Regions from separate parts of the Homo sapiens genome. Here region 1 is linked to region 2. The links come from fine-mapping of genetic effects on gene expression. Tissue or cell type: aorta. Region 2 holds a variant in brackets; the other region holds the start of a gene. All regions are shown on one strand. Distances are from middle to middle.

Region 1 (11,857 bases), 31 kb after region 2:
GATGCCGGCAGCGTGGATATACTGCGGGGGGCAGAGGATTTGGCAGGCTTCAGCGCACCCTCTCAGAGCCACAGGGCCCTCCTCTGCCCAGCCCCGAGGCCCTGCCTGCCTCCCTGCAGCCTCCCCCGGGGCCCGTACCCTCAGCCCCTTCAGCATCTGGTACACGAGGAACTGGATCCGGTCCTCGCCTAGCTTCTCATGTTTCATGAGCTTGCCCAGGTCGGTGCCCATGAACGGCATCACCAGGTAACTGTGGGAGGGGCCGGAGCGCTGTCAGCGGACAGAGCCAGCCTCTGCATCCCAGAGACCCACCCAGCAGGCCCAGGCTCAGACCCGTCCCGGATCCAACAGGCACCCCCAGGAAGGTCACCCCTGCAGCACACATCCACACTGGCCTCGGTGTCCTCGCAGCCCCACCTTGCAGTGCCAGGCTCCATCCTCCCGCAACTGTTACTGCCAGCAGCGCTCACACCCCCCTCCCACCCTGAGGACTGTCAGGCAGGGAGGAGGCTGCCTTGGGGTTTTTGAACCCTCCGCTGAAGCGCCCTGCGTGCCAGGCTAGGGGCTGAGGCTCCATGGTAGAGGCAGCAGGACTCGAGTCTTCACAGGCAGGGGAGGGAGGCAGTCAGGTTTCAACTTCACAACTTTGTGCCAGAAATGAGGGAGGTGCCTGGGGGCGATGGGGGCGCGGCAAGGCATCTGGGTCAGAGGGGTCGGCTGGGCCGGTGGAGACAGACACAGGAGAATGGTATTTAGCACCTTCCCAGAGGCCACTGACTTGACCTCTGCAAGTCAGGCGGGAGGCGCCTGCTACCCTCTCCAGGCCTTCCTCGGCCTGGCCCTTCACTCTTGGCCGACAGGGTGTGAGTCCCAGGGTGGTCGGCTGCAGGGCAGGGGCAGGGTGGGTCCTCCCTACCGCTTCTCCCCCACCCGCTGGAAAAGGTCAGCAGCTCCAGTTACCGGCCACACACTTGGTGCCAGGGTCCCGAGCACGGGACCTTCCTGTTAACAAATGGTCAGGTCCAAGGTTCACACCTCCGGTGCTGGAGAGGGCCCAGGTGCCAGGCGTGGAGAGAGGCAGCAGCCCCAGCTCTGCCCAGCTGTGCCAGTGCCCGTGGGTCCCAGGACCATGTGGGGGAGGGCGTGGGGTGGACAGTGGTATGGGGAGGGGGTGGGCGGTGTGCATCCCCCACTCAGGCTGCAGGAAGAGAACCCCATTGCCAACCTAGAACCTGAAGCCAGTGCCCAGAGCTGCCCAACACCCCTCGTGCCCAGCGGCCAGCCCAGGTCGGCACTCACAAGTCCGTGAAGTCATCCAGGGTCTCATCAGGAGTGAATACGTCCAGCAGCCCGATCACCTGGGGGGGCCACATAGGGTTGAGAATGCAGCAGAGGACACGGGCTGGGGCACCCCCCAAGAGTGGCACAACCCTCTGGGCAGGAAACCCCCTCTGCAGCTGTCATTGTCATGCCCCACTGTCCAAAGGGCCTGGCTCTGCCCACTGGCAGTGTGGCCCAGCCCTGGCACACATACCCACTGGCAGTGTGGCCCAGCCCTGGCACACATACCCACAGAAAGGTTATTTTTGGACGGTGACAACCGGGATCTTCTGGGGGAGGGGCAACCCGGAGTCTGGGATGGCTCCGAACCATCCAAAGGGCTCCTGCCGCCTGACCCTTTCACCCCTCTTCACCCCAACCAAACAGATCCAGGCCCAGGGTGGGGACAGCGCTATGGAAAGAGGCCAGGCCTCTGCTGGTGAGGCCCAGGCGGACAGCACCGTGACCCACCAGACCTGGTCCCCTCAGCACCCCTGGTTGGGGAGATAGACAGTAGACAGGTCATGTGACAACTGCCGCCTCAGCATTTTGGGGTGACGGTCCCAGGGAGGCCTGGAGTTTTGCACAGCCAAGGGTGGAGGGGCAGGTAGACATGTGGGCTGCGGGACACCTGGCAGAGGGCACACACAGAGTGGCCGAGGCAGGAGGGAGCACACTTGGATAGTTTGAAGAATACAGGGAGGGAGGCCAGGTGGCGGAGGCCCAGGCCAGGGAGGGGCTGAGGAGAGGCCAGAGGGAGCCGGCAGGGCAGCACACACCAGGTGGAAGTTTGGCTTTGATCCCAAGAGACGGGGACGATTTAAATGGGGACGTGAGGCTAAATGCGTCCTCCTGGCCGTGGTGTAGGAACCGGCCAGAGTGAGGTAAGAATGGACACAAGCTGGAAGGACAGCTCCGCCGGAGCCACGTGGGCCAGAGCCATGGGCAAGAATGTGGAGGGAGGAGGAGAGGGAACAGAGGGGGTGTCCAGGGGGCAGCGGGGACTGTGGACATGAGAGCTGGAGGGTGCCCGGGAGAGTGCTTTAGCAGAAGACGGAGAGCAGGGTCCTGTGGGCTAGGGGCCACAGGACTTGGCCTGGCCTCTGTGGTATGGGGGCTGGCCTGGAGAGGGAGGCGGCCTGGCAGGACTGAGGCCTGTGGCAGAGCCTCCTCCCCCGCTGAGCAAGGCACGTGGCCTCACAGAGCTTCAGTCTCCCAGGAAGATGGGGTTCCAGGGAAAGAGCCTCAGCTGCAGGCCAGGAGCCCAGGGGGTGGGCCCACAGGCACAGCGGAGATCCCAGCACAGCGGGGCGGTGGCTAAAGAAAAGCCCCGGTGGAGCCCGGCGCGGTGGCTCACGCCTGTAACCCCAGCACTTTGGGAAGCCGAGGCGAGCAGATCACTTGAGGTCAGGGGTTCGAGACCAGTCTGCCCAACATAGTGAAACCTCATCTCAACTAAAAATACAAAAAATTAGCCAGGCGTGGTGGCGCGCGCCTGTAATCCCAGCTACTGAGGAGGCTGAAGCAGGAGAATCGCCTGAACCCAGGACGCGAAGGTTGCAGTGAGCTGAGATCGTGCCATTGCACTCCAGCCTGGGCAACAAGAGCGAAACTCGGTCTCAAAAGAAAAAAAAAGAAAAAAAGCCCCAGAGCGCTTGGCTGGATGGGGCAAGGCACGGGTGGGTGAGTGGGTGGGTGGGAGCAGGGGGCCGTGGGGAAGGCTGCAGTCCTGGGGCAAGGCCTTGGTGTGATGGGCGGGTGGTGGGGGGGTGCGGTGCCGGCGAAGTGGGGGCAGGGCTGGGTGTGACGGGGTGTCGAGGTGCGGGCAGGGCTGGTGTCCACTGCAAATGGATTTCACAGGGCCCAGGGTAGTGAGCTGGGGGTCAGGGTGGGCATGGGAAGCCTCAGAGAAAAAGACCCATCCAAGGGGCTGAGGGAGTAGCGGTGGCCAGGAACCGGGGGACGGGGCACTTTGCTGGTGGACGGGGCACTTTGCTGGTGGACGCAGGGACTCGTTCTCCCAAGGCACCGGTGGCTCAGATGACCCAGGAGGGTCCAGAGCATCTCACCCTGTAGGTAGGGTCCGGGTGCCCAGACCACCAGCCCTCAGGCTGGGCCCAGACCAGGGGGAGGGCAGGAGTGACGTGGGGGGCAGTGGACAAGTGGGACTGTATCCAGAAACCAGAGCACCCCTGGCAGAGAGATCGGGTTCTTAGCAGCCAGCCACCGCCATGGGAGAGGCCCAGGGCAGCTGTACGTGGCATCTCACTGGAAGGACTGGAAAGGATGGGCCCCCACAACGCACAGGAGGGTGTCTGTGAGGCGGCCACCACGCCCAGTGCTCCTCAAACAGCAGCTCCCTAAACCCTTCACCCCCAGGGGCTCCTGAGGGTTCAACACACTCCCTGCGTTCTGGCGCCCCCCTCCTCCCCCTCCACCACCGGGTCGGAAGACTCGGGAGATGGACAGCAGCAGAGTGGGCTCCACAGAGGGGCTGGAAAGGGGATGGGGAAGAGGGAAGGTGCCCCTTCCAGGAAAATCCTCCCGCCGGGAGCATGCTCTCACCGCGGGCTTCCTGGCTGGGGGCAAGGCTTGGCGTGAGACCTGGAGGATCCCCTGGGCCTGGCCAAGTCGTGTTCCCTGACCAGGGCCTGGCTGAGGCGCCGAGTCAAGGGGCTGAGTCCTTCCCGGGGCTGGCGGAGGATGGGGAACGGCCCTTGGGGGAGTCGTCTCCCAAGGAGAGACAGGCCTTGCTCTCCTTCTCCCCTGGGGACCCACGGCCCGACCCCCGCCCGGCCCCACAGCAGGCTGCCTGGAGGAGGGGTTGCCGGGTGGGGGAACCCAGCCCAGCTGAACCAAGCCGAGGCCGCGGCGCCTTCCCGGAGCGGGGCCGCGCGACTCACGTTCTCGTGGCGCATGTGCTTGAGCAGGCGCAGCTCGCGGTAGGCGCGCTTGGCGAACAGCTCGGACTGGAAAGGCCGATACAGCTTCTTGATGGCCACCTTAGCGCCGGTGCGGCCGTCCACGGCCGAGCTGCGGGGCGGACCGCTTAGCGGGAAGGCCGGGCACCCCGCGCAGGCCCCGCCCGCCCCGCCGGCCGCCCCGCCCGGCCCGCGCTCACCACACCGCGCCGTAGGCGCCCGAGCCCACGGGCTGCAGGTCCCGGTACACGGCGCGCACCTCCCAGGCCGTCTTGGTCACCTCCTGGCGGTAAAAGCCACTGCGGGCGGGCGGCGGAGAGCTCATGGCAGGCCCGGGAGCTGCCCACCCCGCAGAGCCTGCGGGCGGTGCCCCCACGACCGGGGACGGGGCTCCCTCGGCGCGCGCCTCGGGCCGGCTCCGCGCCGCTCGTCCGCTCGCCCGCCCGCCCGCCGGCCGCTGGGGCGCTCCCGCTCCCGGCCCTTCCCTCAGGGATGTCCCAGGTGCCGACCCCGGCCCGACCCCGACCCAGGCTGCGCACGGCCCCTCCCCCGCCCGGGGACCAACCGGCCCGCGGGCGGCGCGCACGTGACGCCCTCGCCCGCCCTCCGGCCCCTCCGGAAACCCGAGGCGGCCGCCGCCGGGGGAGGGCCGGAGCCTGGGGAGGGCCGGAGCCTGGGGGGAAGCGCAGGGGGAGGGGAGCGCCGCCCCGCAGCTTCGTCCCCATAAAGGGCCGGACGCGGCGCGGAGATACCTCTGCCAGCCTCTCCCCTTTGGCTGAACTTCCCCGCCCTGGGGGGGTCTCAGCAGGAGCCCCCCCCCCCCCCCCCCGCCCGCTCCAGTCCTAACTCCCCACGGCTCCAGGGCGCAGGGCCCATCCTTGACAGCCTGAGCGCTGACTTCTATGGCAGCCGCAAGTCGGGCTGAGCCCTGTGTTCCCGGGGTCAACTTCGCAGGCCACCCCCAAGGATGCCCTACCACTGAGCCTGATCCATCCGTCCCCCAACAAGGGGTCCATCTGCACCTGTCCTGCCTGTATCCCTCTTTCTACACGGAGGGGTCTGTCCCCCAAACTCCTCAGGCTGCATCCCCAACCCCACTCCTGTGGCCACTGACCCCGGGCCTCTCAGTCCCATAGGTCCCCGTGGGCCCTTTTGGACCCCCAGCTCCTCCCCCTGCTCCCCCCATCTGTGGGGTGCCTGCTCCAAGCATTGCAAGTACTGGTGTCTCTGCCCATCCCACCCCTGCCTGTCCTGTCCTGCAAAACCCAGGCTGAGAGTGGCTGCACTCTCTCCAGCAGGGATGGGGACCTGCTGGGGCCCTCCGCCTGACCCCTCTGTGTGGGCATTGTCCTCCCATAGGTCTGGCCCCATCCTGGACCAGATGCTCCTGAGGGCAAAGCCCCACCCTGACACCCCTTCACCAGCCCAGGAACCTGGATCTCAGAAGGGATGTTGGGGCACCCCAGGAGCCCACTGGGCTGGTGGGTAACAGGATCCCTAGGGCCTTCTGCCCCGCCCTCCTGCCATGAATCAGCAGCTCAGCCGCTCAAGGGTGGTAGTAGCTTTACACCTGGGCTTGGGCCGTGCTCCACGGCATTCACCAGCTCGTGACCAGTGAGCGGGGCAGCCCAGGGCCACCCAAACCACAGCTGCCTGTGGCCCATACCCTTTGTGCCCTGGGCTGCCTGTGGCACTCCATCCACCTCTTCCAGGAAGCCCAGCTTCCACGCTGTCCCCCTTACTCCCCGTGGTGGGGCTCAGGGGTCCAGCAGGCCCTGCACGGACCAGGCTTCTGAGGTGGGGCTGTGTCACCATTCTCCTCCCACCCCCAACCGCCAACACTGGACTTCCCCCGGGATTGACCACTACACTGACCAGGCCCCAGGAGGCCCCCAACTCCCAGACGGTTTCCACCCCTACCCAAGACCCAAGCAAGGGCACAGACTGTCCCTGGTCCTTAGAGACACTGCCTGACCCCAAATGGCCTGGACCCTCCCCCACACATAAGCTGCAGCGCGTAGTGGGAACGGGACCAGCGTGCACATTCCCTGGGTTAAAGTGGCCTCTTTTTCCTTCACCAGGAGGGAAAGGAAAGCTATTTTCCCTACCCTGCCCAGCCCCCACCCAGGGATGGGCAGACCCTTGCTCCTTGAGACACCCAACTTCTCCCCAGCCAGCTTCCCTGAACACTGAGGGGTAGGCGGGGGTGGTGTCTGGATCTTGGCCCAAAGCCAAGCCTGCCCAGTACATCCCCACAGGGCAGCTGGGGTCACCATCTGGGTGGCTGTCACACCCTGTGCCCTCAAAGTCTGCCCATCAGCCATGTCTTCCCCTGGTCCCCCTGGGCTCTCAGACCCTCCAGGGAGCAGGGAGGGTGCCAGAAGATGGCCGCTGGTCTGACTGGGGGCCTGAGGGATCTGGCCAGCTGGAGGTGAGTGATGCAGGATGACCCAGACACTCCCCCCACGCCCAGCAGCAGGGATGGTGGGGGCACCCGGGCCTGGAGTAGCCTTTGGATACAAGCCAAGTGAGAGAGAACCCCCTTTATTGTGCACCCCTGGTGCAGGCACTTGACACCCAGGCTTCCCTGGGCCCCTCGAGGCAAGAGGTCACCCCCTTTCCAGGGCAGAGCCACACCCCCAACTCAGCTCTGGGCAGGGTCCCGTCTCCGAGGTTACTGGATCAGCTCCATCCTGGGACAAGGAAAGAGGACTGACCCACAGACCAGAGCACCTCAGATCTCCGGCTGCAGGGCCACAACGGTGGGCAGAGGTAGAGAGCGGGCCAGGGTGCAGGGCAGAAGTGTCCGAGTCCAAGTCCACATCCAGGTGTGCTGCCTGCCCTAGCGTCCTCAAGGCCAAACCACCCACCCACCCACCCCCAGCCTCAGGAAGCTGCTGTGGGTCCCACATCCAAGGAGAAAGCCCCTGCCCATGCTCATGTGGTTGCCCTTTGGCCCACTGGAGCCGCCAGTCTGAAACACCCCTCAAGGCATCAGGAACCGAGGAGAGGGAAGGCAACAGCACACCCACCCCGGCTCCAGCTTCTTGCCAGATATGGCTGCTGGCCTTGGGCGCCCACAGATTCACACGCACCACATCACATGTGCCCTGACATATGAACACGGGGAGTGCACGCTCATCCACACGTGCCCACACACACCCACGGGTGAACACAAGACTCCAGGCAGCTTTTCTCATTTGACACCTGGTGGTTGTCCCTGCCCAGCCTGGTGGCACACTGGCTCTGCCTCTCCTCTTAGACCTGTGGGTCTCAGCAGTGACCAAGACAGCCCCCTACCTCCAGGCTGAGCAGCTCTAACCACTGAGACCTCTCCCTTTGAGTCTCCCGGGGTCCCGGCCCCAGCGCGTCCTCCAGAAAGCCCTGGGACAGAAGAGAGCCCAAGGCTGACACTCCCTTGGGTCGGCCTGGGACAGACAGGGGAACTCCGCAGGGGAACCCCTTTGGCATCTAGGACCCCACAGTCAGGTCCCAGTGGAGAGTGCAGTAGCCAGAAGAGGACAGGAGGACCAAGGTAGGCCCAGGGACACTTGTGCCCAGACTCCTACACATGGCAAGCACATGTACACACATGTTTGTGCATGCATACATGCGTGTAGATTCTCCTGAAGGCGAGGGGTCCTAGGCCAGAAGTCTGTGACCATAGGAGTGTGGGAGGTGCCTCTCGAGGAAACCAGGCCAGCTGTGGAAGGGTGCAGGCCCAAGCCCCTCCACAGGCTCTCAGGGGCTGCTGGGCAGCACCTCACTGCTCAATCTCCAGGCTGCCAGGTGGCTTCGGTGGCTCTGGGGGCTTGAAGCTGAGGACTTCCTGGTAAGTGAGCTCTAGGAGGTGAAGGGAAAGGGTGAGCTTGTGCCTCCCACAGCCCGGCCCCTCACCTGCTTGTCTGGCACCTGCCACCCAGCCCAGGCCCACCACCCTGTGACAGCAGCCTCAGCACAGTCTGGGAGCCAGAACCTGCCCTGTGTCACTCCTCCGCCCCGCTCCCAGCCTGTGCTGGACACCTGAACGCCCTTCCACACCTGACCAGTCTGGAGAGGAACTGGGGCATTTCCTGCCTCTGGGGAAATGGAGCCCGCAGGCCCCTGGACCCACCCCCAGCCACTGCCATGCTCACCCTTCCACTCCTCCAGCGTGCGCTCCTTGGCCTCAACGCTCTCATCATATGGCTCGGCCTCTGGCTCATCCTCGGGGTCGTGGTACTGGCTGAAGTAGGCGTGGGCCAGTGCCTCAGCTGCACTGACCCTCTGGTCACTGTCCAGCACCAGCATCCTTCCAAGGAGGTCTATGGCTGCAGGGAAGCCAGTGGTGGGGAGGGGGGTCAGCTGTACATCCAGGGCCAGATATGGAGCCCAGTCTAGCCCAGGGCAGTCCTCACCCAGGGGGTTGGCTCCACGGAAGATGCTGCTCAGGTCCTTCTGGGGCATGGGGGGCAGGGACTGGATATATGTCCGGGCCTGGGGGCACACAAGAACACCTGGGGAGGCTGCTCACTCTCTGCCTCCCTGGCCCCAAACTGGGGCTTCTCTTGGCAAGCCCCCAGACTCATTCACTCCAACAGGCCAGGACAAGGGCACAGGCAGACCAGTGACCCCCTCCATATAGGATCTGGTGGTTCTAGCTCCTCAGTTGGCCCCTAATGCCTGCAGGAGCTGGGTCCAAGTACACTCCCTCCACCCAGCCCACCCCCACTGCCCTGGCCAGGCACTGCTTGCTGGGGTCCCCCAGCCCACCCCCACTGCCCTGGCCAGGCACTGCTTGCTGGGCCCCCAGCCCACCCCCACTGCCCTGGCCAGGCACTGCTTGCTGGGGTCATGGCTTTGCACTCACTGTCCCTGGTGTCAGGAATGTCTTCCCCCTTCTCCTGTTTCCCCTGCAGGGATTGGGCACCTGCCCTAGGCTCTATCCCACCACATCCCATGTTCCCCATATGGTCCCCGCATTTCCACACCACCCTCTCCCCCAGAGAGCCTGGGGGCTCAGCCAGGAGAGGGAGCTGCTGGCTGGCGGGCACCAACTCACGTGTTCTGAGGAGATTTTTGCCAGAACCTCAGGGCTGGGTGTGCCCACCACTTCCATGATGCGCTTCAGCTGGTCAATGTCTGTGTCACTCAGGAAACACCCACGGGCCAGCCACAGACCCCTCCTGGGCCCCCAGACCCAAAACTTTGGGGCGCTGCCCAGAGCCCGCTCTCCTATAGGTGAGGATGGCCAGCCCAAAGTAGCATAGCATGGGGGGCAGAGGAGGCAAGACCCGCCAGAAGGGGCCAGCGCTGGTCCCTACCCTACAGGAGGGGCCCTGTTTGACCCTGCTCCCCAACCTGGGCCAAGGATACAGTCGCTTCCCGGGAAGAGGGCCTTGCCCTGGAGCAGCTCAGCCATGATGCAGCCCACGGACCAGATATCCACTGTGCGAGGGCGAGGGGACCTCCATCAGTGTGCCCACCCCACGTCCCTCCTCCAGGAGACCCACAGTCACATCCAGACCCCAAGATGGGCAGACCCCCTCCTCTGCCATACCCAACCCCCCTAGGCAGGGGGAGGTCCATAGCTGCACAGCCAGAGGAGGCCAGCACCCATCATGCTCTAGCGGCCTCTGAAGGGCTACTTTTGAATGTGGGTCCCACATTCTTGGGGACCTTGCCTGCCCCCTAAGACCTGGCATGCAGAGCCAGTCGAGGGCCAGACGAGGCCCTTGGCCTTCGTCCCCCCAAGGCCTTCCCCCTGCACCTGTTTGGTTGTAATGCATCCAGTTGAGCATGATCTCAGGTGCCCGGTACCAGCGCGTGGCCACATAGCCGGTCATCTCCTCGTCCGCCTGGCGCGCCAGCCCAAAATCCAGGATCTGGGGCGACCACGTGGTGTTCTCAAGCTCCGCACGGGCTCCGCCGCCGCCCTGCCCACCCCTGCCCACGGGCCTCACCCTGAGCTCACAGTCCTCGTTCACAGCCACGTTGCTGGGCTTCAGGTCCTGCAGGTCACGCGGAGCGTGAGCACAGGAGGCTGGGACGGAGCCCTGCTGGACCCGACCCTCACCCTGCGGTCGCACCTACCCGGTGGATGATCCCGGCCGAGTGGATGTACTGCGGGAGGGGGATTGTGGTGAGCGCCGGGCCCGGCCCGCCCGCCCCCCTGCGAGAGGACCCGCGAAGCCCAGGGCGCCCCACCTTCAGCCCGCGCAGCAGCTGGTAAACCAGGAATTGAACGTGCTCGTCGCTCAGCGCCTGGCACTTGACGATGTTGTTCAGGTCGGCGCCCATCAGGGTGGTCACCAAGTACCTGGGGCGGGGTCAGGGGGTCAGGACAGGGCCCCACCGCCCCACCGCGAACGCGCTCCCCGCTGCCTCGCCCGCCCCGCCGCTCACACTTCGCTGAAGTCCTCGATGGACGTGGCCGGCGTGAAGACGTCCAGAAGCCCGATGACCTAGGTGGCGGGGGGCGTCAGGGCCGGGCGACGAACCCCCGGCTGTCGTTCAGCTCCCCCCGGGCCACGCCCCCAGTGCCAGGCCGCGCCCCCTGTGTCCCCGCCCCCATCGCCAGGGCTCGCCCGCCTATTGGCTGCGCCGCGGCCCCGCCCCCGCACGCGCCCTCCCCCCACGGCCCTCCCCCGGCTCACGTTCTCGTGCTTCAGGTGCTTGAGCAGCCGCAGCTCCCGGTACGTTCTGCGCGCGTGGATCAGCGACTGGAAGGGGCGCGACAGCTTCTTCACCGCCACCTTCTGGCGCAGCCGGGCGTCGTAGGCCGAACTGGAAGGCGGGCGAGTGAGGCGGCGCCGGGAGGGGTCCGAGGGCGGCCGCACGCGCGTGGACCCGGGCGGCGTCCCTCTCGCCGCTTCTCCGTGGGGATGGGGCCGTGGGGCTTTTCTGCCCCGGCCCCGCCGCCCCAGCTCGGCCTCCCACCCTCGGGCCTACCCACTCCGCGCTTGCTGGGAAGGAGCCCCTGGGGCTGGACCACCATGCGTGTGTTCACCCCACAAGGTCCTGGACCTTCTCTGTCCCCTGGCCCCACTGATTCCCACGCTCAACCAGGGGCCCCCATTCAAAGCAAGGCTGGGGGAGAGGTGCCCCATCCAGCGTGGAAAAACACAGCAGGAAAACAGTCACTGGCATTCACCTGCAGCAGACGGGCCTCCCTCTGCCCCATAGACCCCATGGGCCCAGGAGGCTCACAGAGGGGGATTCTAGAGCCACCTCAAAGCCCCTGGACCCCTGGTGCCTCCGAATGTTCAAAATACGGAGGGAAAGTTGGTCAGAGGTGTTTATTGCATCATTATTTGGAACAAAACCGGGACAGAAGGTGATGTACAGCTGAGGGCGTCAGCTGGACCCACAGAACAGCCCTTCGCCCAGCCCCACTTCCCAGAGGTCCAGACCCTCTACCCTGCACCAGCTTCCTGAGCCCACCCTCCCTTTGCAGGTGACCCTCATCCCACCCTCCCATGTCCCACTGCCCTCAGCCCTGCTAAAGGAAAGGCCTTTGCACAGCCTGTTCCCTCTGGCTGATACTTGCTTCTTCTCTCCCTCCCACTTCTGTCTCTTGGGATCCTGTCTCAGAGCAAGTGGAGGCTGAGGCCACCCCCCATGCCCACACAAGGGGA
Region 2 (11,429 bases):
AGCCTCATACTCAGCCCCAGGGAAGACCGGCCCCTCTCTTCCCCACACATGAGCCCCTCCTCACCCGGGGGCAGCAGAGCTTCAGCAGGTTAATGGTCTTTCCGCAGACGTATATGTCGTGGGCAATGTGCTTCAGAAACACGGGAACACAGTCCTCCACCTCTTTGGAGATGAGCACGTAGCCATGTGTCCAGTACAACTTATCTAAGGTAGGGTGAACACCACGGTGGCCGGCATGGCCATGGCCCTGAACCCAGGCCCACAGGCACGGACCCCTGCCCCGCAATCAGCTGCCACCTACCTCGGAAGCTGAGGTACTCGTGGTTCACCTGAATCATGAACTCGCCATAAGCGTCTCTGAACACCCCGCTGTACACCCAGTCGTGGATGAACCTGCAGTGGGGGAAAAGCAGGGGTAGATGTGGTCAACGGAGAGGTGGGTGGGGCGTGGCTGTCAGTGAGGGGTGGGACAGGGGCGTGGCTGTCAGTGAGGGGCAAGTGGGGGCGTAGCTGTGAGAGGTGGAGTGGGGTGTGGCCATCCATGAGGGGCGGGATGGAGTGGGGGCAGGGTGGGGGGTGTGGAGTGGGGGCAGGGTGGGGGGTTGGGGGCTCCTGCCCAGTCCACCTATCCTGCCCTCCCCTTCCTGTGTGACCCCCACATTCAGCAGGTGTCTGACAAGGGACCGCTCTCAAGTGTCTGCCTGGTGGGAGTGCGCGCCCGCCGCGCCTGCCCAGCCCACTGCCCACCGGGTGTAGGGCTCGCAGCTGGTCTTCAGCAGGGACAGCAGTACAGGGTAGTGCTCGTTGCTGCAGTTGTGCAGAGCCTCCTGGTAGAGGTAGGACAGCAGCTTCACGCCCTGCAGACCGCAAAGGGGGTGGGGGGCAGCTCAGCGCACCCAGCGCTGGGAGTGAGGCGCAGCCCTGCCGGCAGCAGCCCTCCAGGGACACGCTCAGCCACCCCCGTTTCCTGGAGCCCACCAGGCTGACACACTCGGCAGGGACGCACAACTCACGGTGGGAAACGCGGCCCTGGGGCCTCCTCCACAGGTGCCCGGGAGCACAGCGCCAACGCCACAGAGCTCGGCCAGGTACCTAGACCCAGAGGCAGGATGAGACCAGGTGACCGGGCTCAGGGTTCCCAGGCCTGGATCAGATCGTGAGCAAAGTCTCCACGTATCTTTATGCTCCCTGGGGCAACTAACTTTAGATGCAGGCTTTAAAAACCACAGGCACCCCAACCACCCAGAAACGGGCTCCCTGCAGGACTCGTGTGCAGCCCTGTGCCCCTGCGCTGTCCACACACACCCCACTGAAGTACCCACACCCAGCAGGCCCTCCCTCCCAGGATCTGGCCAACACACGAATCACCCTGATCCTCCCACTTCTGGGGGCTGCACCTGAGAGCCCCTCCCATCCACACAGTGGTACCAAGCATCTGCCACAACTCGCACCCTTCACAGCCCAGCTCCCCTGCCCCACAGTGTCTCAGCCCTTGGGTCTCCTCAGCGCTGCCACACTCTGCTCCTCAGCCTGGAAGGTCGCCTCTCCCACTGCTCCCAATGCCCAGCTCCTCACTCTTCCTTCTCTGATGGCACCTGCCAATAGCCCCCGAGCCTGGTTGCTCACTAACCAGCTTGTGTGTACCGGACGCCACATCTCCAGGGACCCTGTGTGCCAATTAGGCAGGAGCCACCGGACCTGGAGGGCCTGGATGGGGCCAGCTGTGGTGGGCCCACGGCAGACACACCCGCTCAGCACCGGGCACCTGGTGAACTCGGCCGGCCAAGGGCCATCCGGTCGCCTGCTGAGGGCTGTTCTCACAGGCCCTCCTTGCCAGGGAGCAGGGCAAACCCTCCACCACCCAGCAAGCCCCACACCGCTCCCGCAAAGTCCCCTGCTCAGCCGCCATGCTGAGGCTCACCTGAGCTGCCGGCCAAGTTTCTTGAAGAGAAAACCAATGGTGAGGAGGCTCAGGGTGGGCGGAGTGGAAAGGACGCAGGCCCGGTAATACTGCAGGTACCTCCTCAGGCCACTGGTGAAGGCCTGTGGGCAAAGAGGCTGGGAGGAGGGCGGCCAGGCACATGGACGCAGCCGTGCCCAGGGCCTGAGGGGCACCAGTGCTGGGAACAGCGCTTTGTTTCTTGCCTCAGCTCTGGGCTCCATTTCCAAGCAATGGGCCTCTGTGAGCCACACCCCGCCACCGGGCCAGGTGGAAATGCGGCCCATCCACAAGAAGCCAGAAGCTGTGGCCCACCACCAACCCTTCCTCTCATCTGAGCCCAGCTGCCCCAGGGGCGCCCACCACCAACCCTTCCTCTCATCTGAGCCCAGCTGCCCCAGGGGCGCCCACCACCAACCCTTCCTCTCATCTGAGCCCAGCTGCCCCAGGGGCATGGCAAAGGGGCTGGGGGGGAAATGGCGGCCGTGCTCTGTGCACAGACACTAGTGCTGTGAGGGCTGCAGCTGCTCCGACCACAGCTGTCTCAGTGGCACCAGCATCCTGGGCAACGCCACAGCAGCAGGCCCTGCAGGTCACACTAAGACAGGGGCACCCTGGACCAATCTCAGTCCACCCACCCCAGGAGCCGCCTGGCTATGCCTGCCAGATGAACAAGAACCACAGTCCAGCCCTTCTCAGCGTCCCCTGCTCTGACCCCTTCTCCACCATCTCTAGCTCTCAAGTCCCCCGGGGCTGAGCCTCTGCCTAGAAGCTCTCCCCGCCCCGTGCAGCTCCCACCATGCCCACCTCCACAGCCCATCTAAAACCTACACCTCACCACATCACCCCACCCGACAGCCCCTGCTGCAGCAGCAACAGTCAAAGGAGGCTGCGCTGCCTGGCTCCTCCAGGGCTCTCTGCCCACCTTCCCCAACACCCTCCTCTCAATCCCCCAAACCCAAATGCCCCATCATCCACCTGCCTATTCTCTCCCACTCAAGGTGCAGCCCCTGTCCCATGGGCCTCTTCCCAGCACATGAGCCAGCTTCAAGACTCACCAAACAGCAGCTTCCGGAGCCAGACTTGGCTCAGAACTCCCAGCAATGTAAATTCACCCAACAGGAGGGCCCTGCGCTGTCAGTCATCCACAATGTGCCGGGCCCACTGGGGAGCAGGCAGCAAGAGCCCCACTCACGCCTTTCCTGCCCTGC[G/A]CACCCCTTATGCTGGCTGCACCTGCCTCCTACACACCCCAGGGCCCACACAGCCCAGGGCCCACACACATCTGCCCCAAGTTTCTAGTGAGGTAAAACATCCTCACTGACCCATCCCTCAAGAGCCACTATCGGGTTTCAGATGTTAGCAAGGAAAGAAAAGGTTTAGACTCTCTGGTCCTGCAGAAGGACCTCTGAGATTCTCTCTTCCAGGTCGTGTGCACCGTTCTCACAAAGGTGTGTGACAACCATGAGGCAAAGGCCATACCTGGAACACGAGGCCCTTGCTGTACAAAGAGTCCAGGACGGGCTGCAGAGAGAAATGACTCAGGCGCGTGTAGCAGGTCCCATACTCGGCCACTTCCGAGAGCAGGCTGCTGATGCTCTCGGGAGACGCTCCTGACACGTGGACGCCCCGCTTCACCACAAAGGCCTGGGCCGGCTGCACAGGGGCAGAGGACACTGGTCACAGAGGCCAGGCACCCAGACCCCCAGTAAGGTGCCGTCTCCCTCCACCCTTGCACCCAACCCCACGCCACCTAGAGTGCCTCCAGGACCCAAAAGCAAATGCCCAGAAGGCATACCCAGAACTCCCACACCGAGGGACCAAACCGAGGCACAAATCCTCACTGACCACACTGAAAAATACATGTTTAAAATGCCAAGTGTAGAAAAGGGTAGAAAAAAACAGAACACCTTCCACAGGACACAAGTACACAGACAGCCTCCTGGGGCAGAAGCTATAAAACATGACGGCCGTGAGACCCGCTCATTTGACTCTTCGGGATGAATTAGAGAAATGATGGAAGATGCACAAAGACTCGCCACAGGACATTCTCCACAGTATGTTTATAACCAGAGAGTGGAGACCCCCAATAGAGGGCTCATGACAACCAAAACGAATGGGGTGTAGCAGAAGCCAGAAGGGAGGTTACAGCCGCAAATACCCACGTTAGAAAGGAAAAAAAATATCCCGCAATACAAAGGAACAAGATACCAAACCACAACAGCACCGTGTATACCCTAAAGAGATATTTTAAAAAGAGCTGTTAGGCCAAGCACAGTGGCTCACACCTATAATCCCAGAACTTTGGGAGGCTGAGGCAGGAGGATCACTTGAGCCCAGAAGTCTGAGACCAGCCTGGGCAACATAGCAAGACCCCCATCTCTAAAAAAATTTTAAAAGTTAGGCCAGGCATGGTGGCTCACGCCTGTAATCCCAGCACTTCAGGAGGCCAAGGCAGGTGGATCACTTCAGGTCAGGAGTTCATGACAAGCCTGGCCAACATGGCAAAGCCCCGTCTCTACTAAAAATACAAAAATTAGCCAGGCATGGTGGCGTGCACCTGTAGTCCCAGCTACGCAGGAGGCTGAGGCAGGAGAATTGTTGAATACGGGAGGCAGAGGTTGCAGTGAGCTGAGATCACGCCTTTGCACTCCAGCCTGGGAGACAGAGCAAGACTCCGTCTCAAAAAAAAAAAAAAATTAAAAATTAGCCAGCCGTGGTGGTGCATGCCTGTTGGTCCCAGCTACTCGGGAGGCTGAGGCAGGAGGATCAATTTGAGCCTAGGAAGTTGAGGCTGCAGTGAGTCATGTTTGAGCCATTGCACTCCAGCCTGGGTGATCCTGTCTCCAAAAAAAAAAAAAAAGAAAGAAAAGAAAAACAGGCTGGACGCAGTGGCTCACATCTGTAATCCCAGCACTTTGGGAGGCCGAAGCAAGCGGATCACTTGAGGTCAGGGGTTTGAGACCAGCCTCACCAACATGGTGAAAACCCATCTCTAATAAAAACAAAAATTAGCTGGGCGAGGTAGTGCACGCCTATAATCCCAGCTACTCAGGAGGCTGAGGCAGGAGAATTGCTTAAACCCAGGAGGAAGAGGTTGCAGTGAGCTGAGATCACGCCATTGCACTCCAGCCTGGGCAACAGAGCGAGACTCTATCTCAAAAAAAAAAAAAAAAAAAAAAAAGCAGTTAAACCCAAAACTAGCAGAAGGAAACAAAAAATAATTAGAGCAGAAATAAATACAGAGTAGGCCAAGCACAGTGGCTCACACCTGTAACACCAACACTTTGGGAGGCCAAGGTGGGTGAAATCACTTGAGGTCAGGAGTTTGAGACCAGCCTGGTCAACATGGTGAAACCCCATCTCTACTAAAAATACAAAAATTAGCCAGGCGTGGTAGTCCATGCCTGTAGTCCCAGCTACTTGGGAGGCTGAGGCAGGAGAATCGCTTGAACCCAGGAGGCGGAGGCTGCAGTGAGCTGAGATCACACCACTGCACTCCAGCCTGGGCGACAGAGTGAGAATCCGTCTCAAAAAGAAAAAAAAAATACAAAATAGAAAAACAATAGAGAGAACCAAACAAAAAGCTGGCTCTTTGAAAAGATCAACAAAATTGACAAGTCTTAGCTAGAATAATTAAGAAAAAAGATGACTAGGGCCAGGCACGATGGCTCACGCCTGTAATCCCAGCACTTTGGGAGGCCGAGACGGGCGGATCACAATGTCAGGAGATCAAGACCATCCTGGCTAACATGGTGAAACCCCGTCTCTACTAAAAATACAAAAAATTAGACGGGCGCGGTGGCGGGTGCCTGTAGTCCCAGCTACTCAGGGAGGCTGAGGCAGGAGAATGGTGTGAACCCGGGAGGCGGAGCTTGGAGTGAGCCGAGATCGCGCCACTGCCCTCCAGCCTGGGCCACAGAGCGAGACTCCGTCTCAAAAAAAAAAAAAAAGAAAAGATGACTATGAAAACAAGAGAAAAAAATCAAGTTACTAAAATCAGAAATGAAAAGTAGGGGCCGGGCGTGGCGGCTCACACTTGCAATCCCAGGACTTTGGGAGGCTGAGGCAGGCAGATCACTTGAGCCCAGGAGTTCAACACCAGCCTGGGCAACACGGCAAGACCCCATCTCTTCAGGCATTTTAAAAATTAGCTGGGTGGGCCGGGCGTGGTGGCTCATGCCTGTAATCCTAGCACTTTGGGAGGCTGAGGTGGGCAAATCACCTCAGGTCAGGAGTCAAGAGACCAGCCTGAGCAACATGGTGAAACCCCGTCTCTACTAAAAATACAAAAATTAGCCAGCCGTAGTGACATGCACCTGTAATCCCAGCTACTCGGGAGGCTGAGGCAGGAGAATTGCTTGAACCCGGGAGGCAGAGTTTGCAGTGAGCCGAGACCGTGCCATTACACTCCAGAATGGGCAACAGAGCGAGACTCTGTCTCAAAAAAAAAAAAGAAAAAGAAAAAGAAAAAGAAAAGAAAAAAATGAGCTGAGTGTGGTGGCACGTGCCTGTAGTCCCAGCTACATGGAGGCTAAGGTGGGAGGATTGAGATTCAGCCCAGGAGGTCGAGGCTACTGTGAGCTGTGATGGTGCCACTGCACTCCAGCCTGGGCAAGAGAGAGACCCTGTCTCAAAAAAAAAAAAGAGAGTCAGGGTTGGTTCCACACAATAAGGCTATCCCCACAACAGACAAGATGAGCTGTGAGCACGGTGTTGAGAACAGGCGCCCTCAGCGCCGGCAGCAGCTGGAGCTTGCTGGTGAGCACTTTTCTGGGGCAGTCACTGGCTGTGCTTCTAGTCCATTCTGAAGTCTAAGAATGGCCACCATAAAAGAACATTTAAGACAAAGGAAGGGGATGAGCACTTAAATGAAAAAGCTGCAGAGCAAGACTTCATTTTTCTGAATATATCCATTCACTTCTCCAGTGCCCAGCAAGAGGGCTGGCTAAACTGCAGCTGGTGCCAGAACCAGTAAGGCCCGGCCCCATCCCGGATGACACCGCATCCAGTGAGAAGAGCAGCGCAGGCCCCAGTCTCGGGACGCTCTCGGCAGGCAGATGCTCCTCCCGAGCGGTGGGAAGGCTCGGAAGGCGCCTGGCACTTCAGGACGGAAATGGAAATGCGGGGAGGAACATTTTCTATCGCTTTGCTGACAGCAATAAACATGTTATTTCTCTGCAGTTTTTTAAAAGGACATTAATAAATTAACACTTTTTAGAACCGAAATGGGATGATGCTGGCTGTCATCACTGGTGGCCCTGGGAGCTGGCCTTCCCTGCCACTCCCCACTCCCTGCACTGGGGCTTGTTCTGCCCCATAAAGGGCTGGGCACTGCGTGGTGGAGGGCAGGCCAGCCCCACACCACTGTGGCGGGGAGTGAGCAGTTCTCACCTGGCAGAGCGAAAACGTGGCAGACACGACCCCAATCAAGACGTTCAGCACGTCTTTCACCAGCTCGCACTCCTTCACCAGCACGGGCTGCGGGGCCTGTAGGACGCCCCCAGCAAGCAGCTGGAGCTCCCCTTGGTGGAGCCTGCAGAACTTGTCGAAAGCGTCCCTTCCCGCCTCCGTCAGGTAAGGCTCCTCTCTGTGGCCAGGGGGGCTGCGAGGGGTGCAGAAGAGAGGCCATGAGCAGACGTGGTGACCTGCACCTCAGCACCAGGGTGCTTTCTCTCGGGAATGGGCATGAACAGAAGAATGGAAGTGATTCAAAACAATAAACTCTAAGAAACATAGCCAGGTATGAATGTCAGCTCACCACCCAGCCTTTTGTGGATGCTGCTGCTGTGAATACCAGCACGATCGATTCTATCAGGACAACTCATGTGGAAAGTGTTCCAGGGCACCTTCCTGGGGTCCTGGGCATGGCCGGGGGTATCCGACTGGCCCAGCCCTGGAAGAGCACCCCAGGCCACGCCAGTGGCCCTCAAGATGGTGATTCACTCATAAAGTATTCTTCTGTTAGAAACAAAACAAGATTTGTACACCCATGTACACAACAGCATCTACACCCTGTCCATGGCAGCATCCACACCCAGGTCCATGGCAGCATCCACATCCCTGTTCATGGCAGCATCATCCACACCCCTGTCCACAGCAGCATCCACATCCAGGTCCACTGCAGCATCATCCACACCCCCTGTCCATGGCAGCATCATCCATACCCCATCCATGGCAGCATCCACACCCCCTGTCCACAGCATCATCATCCACACCCCTATCCACAGCAGCATCACCCACACCCATCCACGGCAGCATCATCCACACGCCCGTCCACAGCAGCATCTACACCCAGGTCCACAGCAGCATCATCCACACCCTCTGTCCACGGAAGCATCACCCACACCCCTGTCCATGGCAGCATCACCCACACCCACCCATGGCAGCATCATCCACACCCCTGTCCACAGCAGCATCCACACCCCTGTCCACAGCAGCATCCACACCCAGGTCCACGGCAGCATCATCCACACCCCTGTCCACAGCAGCATCCACACCCAAGTCCACGGCAGCATCATCCACATCCAGGTCCACAGCAGCATCGCCCACACCCCCGTCCACAGCAGCAGCATCCACACCCCTGTCCACAGCAGCATCCACACCCAGTTCCACAGCAGCATCATCCACACCCAGGTCCACGGCAGCATCGCCCACACCCCCGTCCACGGCAGCATCATCCACACCCCTATCCACAGCAGCATCATCCACACCCCCTGTGCACGGCAGCATCACCCACACCCCCGTCCACAGCAGCATCTACACCCAGGTCCACAGCAGCATCATCCACACCCCCTGTCCACGGCAGCATCACCCACACCCACCCATGGTACCAGCACCCACACCCCCGTCCACAGCAGCATCCACATCCAGGTCCACAGCAGCATCATCCACACCCCCTGTCCACGACAGCATCACCCACACCCCTGTCCCTGGCAGCATCACCCACACACACCCATGGCAGCATCATCCACACCCCTGTCCACAGCAGCATCCACACCCAGGTCCACGGCAGCATCGCCCACACTCCCGTCCATGGCAGCATCCACACCCAGGTCCACCGCAGCATCATCCACACCCCTATCCACGGCAGCATCCACCCCCTGTCCACGGCAGCATCAGCCACACCCCTGTCCACAGCAGTATCCACACCCCTGTCCATGGGAACATCATCCACAACCCTATCCACTGCAGCATCATCCACACCCGTGTCCATGGCAGCATCCACACCCCAGTCCATGGCAGCATCTACACCCCTATTCACGGCAGCATCATCCACATCCCTGTCCACGGCAGCATCATCCACACTCCTGTCCATGGCAGCATCCACATCCCTGTCCACGGCAACATCCACATGCCTATCCACATGCCTGTCCACGGCAACATCCACATGCCTGTCCACAGCAGCATCCACACCCCCGTCCACGGCAACAACATCCACAACAGCCAGGGGGAGAGGAGCCTGAGCCCCCAACAGAGGAGGATAAACACAGACCGTCCGTGCAGACCCCTGCCCATCATTCAGCCTTAAAAAGGAAGGCAGCTCAGACACGTGCTCCAGAAGGCACGGCACTCAAGGACGCCGTGTGGAGTGCAATGAGCCATCACAAAACACTGTCTCCACAGGGACGGCGCTCGAGGACGCCAAGTGGAGTAAAATGAGCCATCACAAAACACTGTGCAACTCCACTTACATGAGGTCCCTACAGTGGCCAAAATCCTAGAGACAGAAAGTGGAGGCCAGGTGCGGTGGCTCATGCCTATAATCCCAACACTTTGGGAGGCCAAGAAAGGCAGATCACGAGGTCAGGAGTTCAAGACCAGCCTGGCCAACATGGTGAAACCCTGACTCTACTAAAAACACAAAAATTAGCTGGGCGTGGTGGCGGGCATCTGTAATCCCAGCTGCTCAGGAGGCTAAGGCAGGAGAATGGCTTGAACCCGGGAGGTGGAGGTTGCAGTGAGCCAAGATCGTGCCACTGCACTCCAGCTTGAGCAACAGAGCAAGACTCCATCTCGGAAAAAAAAAAAAAAAAAGTGGAGTGAATGGGGAGCTGTTTAATGGGTTCAGAGTTTCCTGCAGACTTGCTGTGCAGCAGTGAAAATACACACAGCATTACAAAGCTGTACAACTGGTTAAGACGGTAAAAACATTATATAAATTTTACTGCCCCACCTCAGAAAAACCGTAAGAGATGGATACAGAAAAAAAAATTCACAATTTTTTTTTTTGAGACGGAGTCTCGCTCTGTCACCCAGGCTGGAGTGCAGTGGCACGATCTTGGCCCATTGCAACCTCTGCCTGCTGGGTTCACACCATTCTCCTGCCTCAGCCTCCCGAGTAGCTGGGACTACAGGCACGGGCCACCATGCCTGGCTAATTTTTTGTATTTTTAGCAGAGATGGGGTTTCACCGTGTTAGCCAGGATGGTCTCGATCTCTTGACCTCGTGATCCGCCCACCTCAGCCTCCCAAAGTGCTGGGATTACAGGCGTGAGCCACTGCACCTGGCTAAGTTCACAAATTTTTAAGACAGTAACAGGTAAGGTGGGCTGGTACAGGCAGCCCTGGGCACATGCAACTCTGAGGAAATTTGCCTTCTGCTGGTGCTGAGGCTGTGAAACCACATGTACTGGCACTACACACACTCACACCCCCGTCCTCCCTGCGAAAACAATCAGCTCCAAGAAACACACTTTTACTGGCCACCTCTGCTATGAAGAGGGTGGGCTGGAGGGGGCAGGAGGAAGGAGACCAGCCCTGAGATGTCCAGTCAGCAGGTGGGGCCGCTCTGGACCCCAGACGCCTGCCCAGGCTCCCTCAGGATGAGATGAGCATGAGAAAGACACAGCCTCTCAGAGCCTCTGTCTGCCCCCTGCATTTCTTCCTGCAGATGGCCTCGGCAGGGGTGCAGGCTGTGGGCACAACCCTGTTTCCCCCTGCAGCCACTTCCACCCCATCTCCTCCAGGACTGGCCCCCAGCACTGCCATGGCTGCACACCCCTCTTGGTGACTCAGAACTGAGGGAAAAAAAGCCCACAGCGGAAACACAAAGACACAGCGCAGGATCCTGCAGGCTCTGGAGTGAACACCCCCCGCCCCAACAGGTCCCCAGAGAGAACACAACCCAAAATGTAGCAAAATGCTTCCCCCAGATGGGTGGCACATGCAGAGAAAGAGACCATTCCAGGGTCTGAAAGGCCTCCCTCCGCCTTAACCCAGCCCTTGCAGCTCAGCAGCAGGGAGGGCCGTGAGCAGTCGGACAATGGTGGTTCTCAGGGTGGGCAACAGCAGGGGCGAGTGGCCCCCCGTGGGGTCTTGGGACCTGTGGGAAAGCAGGGTTGATGTCTTGGAGAGTGGAGAAGGCTCAATTTCTGGCTAGGCGGCAGTTTCTTTAGCCACCTGCTGGTCAGAGCTCATCACAGCAGGAAACTAGCAGGTGGCTGGGATTTAAAATGAAACAAGACCAAACGATTTGCCAAAGGAACTTGAA

The links. PIP is the estimated chance that this variant, and not a neighbour inherited with it, causes the effect.
Region 1: it holds the start of MAPK12, and the variant in region 2 is the best candidate, but not a certain one, in a credible set for the expression of MAPK12 in aorta (GTEx, PIP 0.55).

Annotation. Positions count from the first base shown.
Region 1 is chr22:50,256,944-50,268,800 of GRCh38, forward strand. It overlaps MAPK12 (mitogen-activated protein kinase 12), which reads right to left and starts at 4,740. Exons shown (of 12, transcript NM_002969.6): 1 at 4,442-4,740; 2 at 4,224-4,353; 3 at 1,300-1,358; 4 at 139-250; 5 at 1-21. The coding sequence starts at 4,566. MAPK11 (mitogen-activated protein kinase 11) reads right to left here. Exons shown (of 12, transcript NM_002751.7): 2 at 10,877-11,006; 3 at 10,626-10,684; 4 at 10,428-10,539; 5 at 10,314-10,343; 6 at 10,184-10,231; 7 at 9,991-10,105; 8 at 9,597-9,668; 9 at 9,283-9,362; 10 at 8,639-8,717; 11 at 8,378-8,551; 12 at 6,770-8,084. The coding sequence ends at 8,005. RefSeq lists enhancers at 1,759-2,331, 3,056-3,556, 5,126-5,857 and silencers at 3,979-4,158, 4,309-4,678, 4,709-5,018, 5,029-5,078, 10,840-10,909.
Region 2 is chr22:50,225,986-50,237,414 of GRCh38, forward strand. TUBGCP6 (tubulin gamma complex component 6) reads right to left here. Exons shown (of 25, transcript NM_020461.4): 3 at 7,331-7,541; 4 at 3,419-3,592; 5 at 1,922-2,043; 6 at 1,014-1,092; 7 at 748-857; 8 at 302-393; 9 at 65-204. Among named protein-coding and RNA genes, the nearest start is that of TUBGCP6, 13 kb to the right of the region's middle. The variant G/A (reference allele first, on the strand shown) is at 3,151.